Homo sapiens: one gene and its partner. The protein of the gene in region 2 purifies or fractionates together with the protein of the main gene of each other region. This does not show direct contact. Each region holds a gene or a part of one and is shown on either strand. Other genes may lie near its edges. The genes, in order: ACSL4 and CBLL1.

Region 1 (3,824 bases), on a different chromosome or scaffold from region 2:
CATCTCTTCTAATAAACACTACTGGAAACTGCCCATATATAACACTAAAGTGGAGTTGCTCTGGCCAAAACAGGGTTTGGGGATGTCCAGAGTCCTGCCCCAGAATTCCCGGAATCCCAACTCCCAAGGTGACCACTAAAGCATTTCCACTGAAAAGCCTTGTGGTAATACATAACTAATACATAACTACCATGTGCAGTGTAGGCAGTAGTATAAGCAATAAATGCAAAAGGAGTTCAGAGGAAGTGCAAAATGGCCAAGAGTAACTAGGAGAGGCTTTGTGGAGATTAGATTTAAGCTGGACCTTATGTTGGGCATCTAGAAATGAAAGAGGAATGGAAGGTATTCCAGGCTCAGGGACCATATGAAAAAAGATACGAAGGTGGGAATGAAAGGACTTTGGGAGAATAGGAAGTACCAATAGCAAGGACACTAGTCTGACTGGGGCACAGCATACACTAAATACGCTAAATACGCTTGACTAAATACGCTACGGTAGTTACAAAATCTAACAAATCAGGCAAAGTAATTTTGATTGGATTATGTGGAAAGCTGGGGGCTGCTGCAGGTTAGAAAAACAGTGCCATTGGAAAGAAACCGCAGAAACAGGCTCAAGAATAGTAATATTTCTTTTCTTTCTTTTTTTTTTTTTTTTTTTTTTGAGACAAGGTCTCACTTTGTCACACGGGCCAGAGTGCAGTGGCATGATCTCAGCTCACTGCAACCTCTGCCTCCCGGACTCAAAAGATCCTCCCACCTCAGCCTCCCGAGTAGCTGGGAACACAGATGTGCATCACCATGCCTGGCTAGTTTTTTTCCATTTTTTGTAGAGACGGGGTTTTGCCATTGTTGCTCAGGCTGTTCTCAAAATCCTGGACTCAAGCTATCTGCCCTCAATGGCCTCCCAAAGTGCTGGGATTACAGGCGGGGGCCACCACACCCGGCCCAAGAATAGGAACATTTTTTAAGGAGCTTACCTTCAACTGAGAAAGCTACTTCGGTGAGTTGTAGCATATTTCAACCAGAAAAATCAAAATATTAGTTCACTTTGAAGAGACAAACTGAAGCCCATCCTTCTGCAACTTTTGTAGAAACAGACTGACAGACTTAATTCAATTGACCCCAGGCTAGTTGATTGTTTTTATACCATCTAATATAAAATGGTAGCTTAATCCTGCCTGTGCCTTTGTTCATGTAATTTAGTTGAGTACAGTGAAATGAGAAAGAAACTGGAAGTCACTGGGTGTCAATCCTCATCTCTGCCCCTAACTGGCTGTGTAACCTTGAGCAAACCATCTACCTCAGTCTGGGACCACACTAGATCAGCAGGCCTTAACCTCTTAGAGATGATGGGCCTTTTTGAGAATGAGAACGAGGAACCCAATTCCCCTCAGAAAGACATGCTAAATGATACACACAATGTCAAGTGATTCACAAGTTCCTTGAAATCCATCCATGAACTTCAAAGGGCAACAACCCTGAACTAAAAATGTCTGGCCTAGGTGATTCTTAGGGCCTTTCCAGCTTTAAATTCTATGACTTACCCTACTTGGAAAGTACCTTCTTAGTCTCTCGGACAAGTCTGGTCATTCATTTCTTCAAGATAAGGTATGTCATGTCAAGGGTTTATCATAATGCTGAATGTAAGATCCCCTCTAACAATCCTCTCCTCCCACTGAAGATTTCATGGCTACCCAAGTCCAGAACAATCTTTACTTTTTCTAATTTCACACATCATTAGCAATATCTACCACTCAATCTGATACATGATTATACTACCATCACTTCCAAACTTCTGGGTACCACAGTATAGAACACGGACCAGTAGTTCTCAACCATATCAAACCCAGTACCTCTTTCTTATGACAAATATTTTGTGATACCTCTTCATCAACATCAAAGGATAGTCATAATCTACCAACACACCATTTTAAAAAATGATTTCTTACTGGTAATATAAAAGAGTACCATAAAGAAACTAATTTAAAATTTAACAAAATACTTGTTTCAATACATACATTCTCAGAGACAATATTAGCAGACATAAAAGCATGTCTTCAGATTTATAAAATGCCCCTAAGGGGTGAGTACCACCTTACCCTCAATTGAGAAATCTTCAGGCTTAAGGCTGAAAATATATAAAGAAACAGAAAATAGCTTTTGAAGAGCCTGTACTTTAGTTGGATTTAAAATGCATTGTATGTTTTTTAGTTATTGATGTTACATAAATTTAATCTTTTATACATATTTGCCTTAAGTCTTAGAGAAAGAGAAATGCTTTCTAGGTAATCCTCATAGTGCTTAGTACAGACACACACACACGCATGCACACACACACACACACACACACACACACAGTAGGCAAGGCTCAAAGAACATTCAGGTGAGAAGAAACCAGAGAGATCATTTAGTCTAGAGGTTTTCAAATTCTTTCTGCAGGTAGTGAGGGGGTCATGGGTCATCCATTTGAATAAAATCTTATATAGATATAAAAACACAAGCGTAGATGAAAGCAAAAAGCATAGCTGCTCTGGTAGAGGAGGCTATGACAGCCCCTGAAGGGACTCCTTGGAACTTCCAGTTCAGCTGAATATTTGAACCACTGATATTGTCTGAGCCCTCATCTTACAGAGAAGCAAATGAATGGCAGAGCACAAATCGAGCACCCAGTGCTCTTTCAAGTACACTAGCCAGCCTCTGCCCAGTTTTGCCTATCATCTTAAACTATAATACTTCCTTGTCAGGGGTTATACTCAGTCTATTGATAAATTCATTTCAAAAAAGATTTAAACATTTCATTTCACTTCAAAAAAAGAAGAGTTGGTGGTAAGGGTATGATGCTGAGCATCGTACCCATCATTAGGCAAAATATAATGTCTCATAAGAGAAACAACAAAAATTTTCTAGGCTAACAGATCTGGGTTTAAAATGTGGTTCTATGCAGCCATAAAAAACAATGAGTTCATGTCCTTTGCATGGAGATGGATGAAGCTGGAAACCATCATTCTCAGCAAACTAACACAGGAACAGAAAACTTAACACTGCATGTTCTTACTCACAAGTGGAAGTTGAACAATGAGAAAACATGGACACAGGGAGGGTTACATCACACACAGGGGCCTGTCAGGGGATGGAGGGCTAGGGGAGGGATAGCATTAGGAGAAATACCTAACGTAGATGATGGGTTGATGGGTGCAGCAAACCACCATGGCACGTGTATACCTATGTAACAAACCTGCACGTTCTGCACATGTATCCCAGAATTTAAAGTATGATTTAAAAAAGAAAGCTCTATATTAGTGGCTTCATCTGTAAAACAGGAATACTGCTTATATTACCTACTTTATAGTGCTTTTGTGAGAAACCTTTGTCTTCTTCCTCTTAAATTCCATAGGCAATCATACTCAGTCCCTCTTGGTTGTCTCACTTGGTTGTACTTAATCATCTCAACCACAGCCTGGTTCTATCCTATCCAATTCTCCACCTAATCTGTACCTGTACCTATGCAGCTGAATTTGCTGTGAGAAACACATGACTGTGTTGAGTGTCTCACTTTAAACTTGTGATTGCTACCTCAAATGGACTCTCCCTGATGCAGAGAGACCACACCGCACTAGTCCACTCACTGGCCCACTCCTCTGGATTTCATACTTTACTCTCTTCAGACCACCAACATTCCTCATCCAGACTTATTCTCAGCAGCTGACCTATTTTGCAGACAAAACAGCAACAATCCAAAGATAATTTCCACAGACTCTCACTGCTACATCTACCCACCTAATCAAATCTGTGGCCACATGCTGTTTTCTCTCCTGTGACTATGG
Region 2 (3,824 bases):
AGTATCAGTGAACTTTTTCTGTGAAATGCTAAATAGTAAATATTTACGCTTTGTGGACCATATGGTCTCAATCACAATTACTCAACTCTACCATTATAGTGTGAAAGCCCCCATAGATAATACTTAAATGAATGAGCATAGCTGTGTTCCAATAAAATTGTTTATAAAAACAGGGCTACATTTGGCCCACAGACATAGTTTGCTAACCTGTAATCAAGGGTAAGATGGAAAAACTCTTTTATACTGGTGAAATAGGGGAAGGCCTTTCAAATAATGTCACAAAACCCAGAAGTCATAAAAGCAAAGACCGGATATCTGACTATATAGAATCTTCAAGATTCTCTGCAATAACTATAATCCCAGCACTTTGGGAGGCCGATGCGGGCGGATCATGAGGTCAGGAGATCGAGACCATCCTGGCTAACACAGTGAAACCCCGTCTCCACTAAAAATACAAAAATTAGCTGGGCGTGGTGGCGGGCACCTGTAGTCCCAGCTACTCGGGAGGCTGAGGCAGGAGAATGGCATGAACCTGGGAGGCAGAGCTTGCAGTGAGCCGAGATCCCGCCACTGCACTCCAGCCTGGGTGACAGCGCAAGACTCTGTCTCAAAAAAAAAAAGATTCTCTGCAATAAATATTTTGTATACAAAATTCAAAAGACAAATGAAGAATATATACAATATAGGCCAGGCACAGTGGCTCACGCCTGTAATCCCAGCACCTTGGGAGGCTAAGGCAAGAGGACTGTTGAGTCCAGGAGTTCAAAACCAGCCTGGGCAACATAGCAAGACCCCATGACTACAAAAATTAAATATAAAAAATTAGCCAGGCAGGTGGGGTGCACCTGTAGTCCCAGCTCCTCAGGAGACTGAGGTGGAAAGATCACTTGAGCCTGGAATATCAAGCCATGATCCCACCACTGCATTCCAGCCCAGGCAACAGAGTAAGACTCAGTCTCAAAAAAACAAAAACAAACAAACAAACAAACAAAAAAATATATATACACACACGCACATACATAACATATAACAAAAACCCTATTAATTTACAAAGAACTCAGAAGAAAGGATCTAAACAAGAATGGTCAATGCTATGAAAAAATATACACTCTTTCATAATTAAAATAAATTTACATCAAAACAAAAATTTTAAAAGGTTTCTAGTACTCAGTATTGGTGTATGGCAGTAAAAACTAACATACCTTTTTATTATTATTTTTTTAATTCCAAAGCCTTTAAAACTACAAATTTGGATATTTTAAAACTTGACAGATACTGTGGATTTTAGAGTTTGACAAGTACTGTCAAATTGCTCTTAAAAAAAAAAAAAAGGCCAAATCTGTGCAAAGTACAAATTCTACAAAGTATACATACTAAACTGTATGTCCAAGAATATTTGGTGCAATGTTTTTTGTAACAGAAAAAACTGGAAAAACTGTTAAATAAATTATGGTATATCTATAAATACCCAAACCTATTTTTTTAATGAGGTACATCTGTAAGTACTGATAAGAAAAAAATCTCAAATGCATATTACATGAAAAAATGGCAACTACACATAAAAAATTAATACTTTTGTATAAAAAAGTCAACAGGGATTATCTTTGGATAGAAGGATTTTACTTTTAATGTTATGCTTTCTGCAATACTGTTGAGATTACTGAACAATGGGCAGTATTGCTTTCAACAACAAAAGGAACCAAATCAAAAAATATTTATAAAGGAAAATAAAAATACAATGTGCTACAATGAGAAGTCAAACAAGAAGGTTGAAGAATGAATAGAATATGTAAGACAAAAAGAGGTAGCTATAAGATCACACAGACTGTCCGAAGCAATCAGATAAAACAGAAAGAGTGTTGGACCTATTAGTTAAACAAATTACCTTCATCACCAGGTGGAGCCTTTGCAGGCATCCTGTTTATAGTTCTTTGAGTTCGCGGTGCAGGTTTCGCTTTGTTTGCTTGTTTGGAGATGAGCTTTATAGGAATTCGTCTGCGAACATCAAGACCACCCAAGGATCCAGAACTATTAGTGCCTTGTAACTCATTGTCTGTGTTAGGAAAAAAAAGTTGTAATTTCTTTTAGTTTTTCTTTTTAAAGATTATTCTGCCACAGGTATTAAAACACCATACCTAACATTATCAAGGTTAAAGATCTGGGTTCTGATTTTCAATATTACATTAAGTTTAACTGCTAATTTTATTTATTTTGGATCAACACTTAAGGCAATGCTTTTTAACCCCTTTTGAGATACAGAATCCTTTAAGAAATTGATAAAAGTTATAGGACCTCTCCCTAGAAAAGTGAATAAAATTTTTCATATAATTCCAGAGAAGTTTACAGAAACATGAAACCATTAATGAACCCAAGAACCATTGTCTTGAACTACAAGAGAATTTTTTAAAAGAAAAAGAGTAAGAAGGAGAAAAAGAACGAAAACCATCCCTGTCTCCATGTCTGATCATCAAGCATGCAAAGCAGAAAATAAATTTAGTAAACTGAACTTACTAATACTGATGAAGGCAAAATTAAACAATGCGTTTGAAAATGAAGTTAAGAAATGTGATTATTCCTTAAGCGCAAAATAATTATTCTAAAAATCATTCAGAAATATAGTAAAAATCATTATACCATTTAGTAGTAAAAACATGCAATAATGTATTTGTGCTATAACATGTGACTGAGTTCTTAGTCAGCACTGTAATGGAAAATTATAATTTAAGAGGATGCAAAGTTCCTATACTACAACTAGGTCTAAACAAGTGTCACTTTCTAGTCCCTGGAGTCTTTGCTTGTTATTGTCTATAGAATAAATTAATTCTTGTCCCATGAGTAACAGGAGTATTATTTCATAGAACTGACTCCATCTAAAGCTTAAGAGTTACCTTTTTTCAAGTAGATGAAAATATATAATACAGAAAATATTTAACTTGACCTACTAAAGAAGGAAAATGCTTAAAATAGGAAATACAAATAACGTATTTTTTAATTTGTAGTGTTTTAAACATGACAAGTTATTGAACAAGGTTGTATAACTGCCCCTGCAGGAAATATTACAGTCAAGACTGATAGCCAAACCATCCACATTAAATTCAGCAAAGCCAAATTTGGAAGTAGTAAGCTAGTACCAATGGCCTCCAAGGCTACTAGGATTACAGACACACAATAAGTTCACATTCATTTGCACTTTTTCTGAACAAAATACCAAACAAAATTAAAAATGGGTCCATAACGATTATTTTAATCTACTTACTACTCTTATAACAGCTAATCCTAAAACAAAGAGGGGTGGAATTACATGGTTAGCTAGAATCTTGAGTTAGGGTTAACCCAACTTGATCAGCTTTCAACACTTCATTAAATAGACTCACAAGCTGATTAATGTATTTGATCTGTTTTCATTGTAGTTGCTTATGTATGTAAAAGTACTTACAAGCAATGCATTGGCCAAAAGAAATATGAATGACTTTTTTCCTTGCTCAAAAAGTATTCCTGACATTCCAATGAACTAAAAAGCAAGTCGTTGTAGACATATAATCAGTTCAATGCTGTCCCTCAAATATTAAATATTCAAATATCAAAATGGTTTAATCGTTTTACCTTTGTGAATAATGAAAATACCAACACTTCATTACAAGTCCTTTTCACACCATCCTGAACACTTGAGGTCTCTACTGTTGCTTGCATAGTCTACCACTTTCAAGAGCTGGCTGGCCCTTCCCACTCTGCTTCACAGATTCAAGTTCATGAGGTACAGCATTTAATAATGATAACATTCTGGGTTTCTTTGGGACTTTTTTGCTTTTTGTTGTTTTTAAATT

What was found.
Region 1: the proteins of CBLL1 (region 2) and ACSL4 purify together in Homo sapiens (affinity purification with western blotting; one study listed by BioGRID). This does not show direct contact.

Annotation. Positions count from the first base shown.
Region 1 is NC_000023.11:109,684,450-109,688,273, forward strand, and holds part of ACSL4 (long-chain-fatty-acid--CoA ligase 4), read right to left. Parts: intron 996-3,824; exon of another isoform or gene 978-995; intron 1-977. UniProt on the Homo sapiens protein: Catalyzes the conversion of long-chain fatty acids to their active form acyl-CoA for both synthesis of cellular lipids, and degradation via beta-oxidation. Preferentially activates arachidonate and eicosapentaenoate as substrates.
Region 2 is NC_000007.14:107,747,109-107,750,932, reverse strand, and holds part of CBLL1 (E3 ubiquitin-protein ligase Hakai), read right to left. Parts: exon of another isoform or gene 3,437-3,824; intron 2,054-3,436; coding exon 1,886-2,053; intron 1-1,885. UniProt on the Homo sapiens protein: E3 ubiquitin-protein ligase that mediates ubiquitination of several tyrosine-phosphorylated Src substrates, including CDH1, CTTN and DOK1. Targets CDH1 for endocytosis and degradation.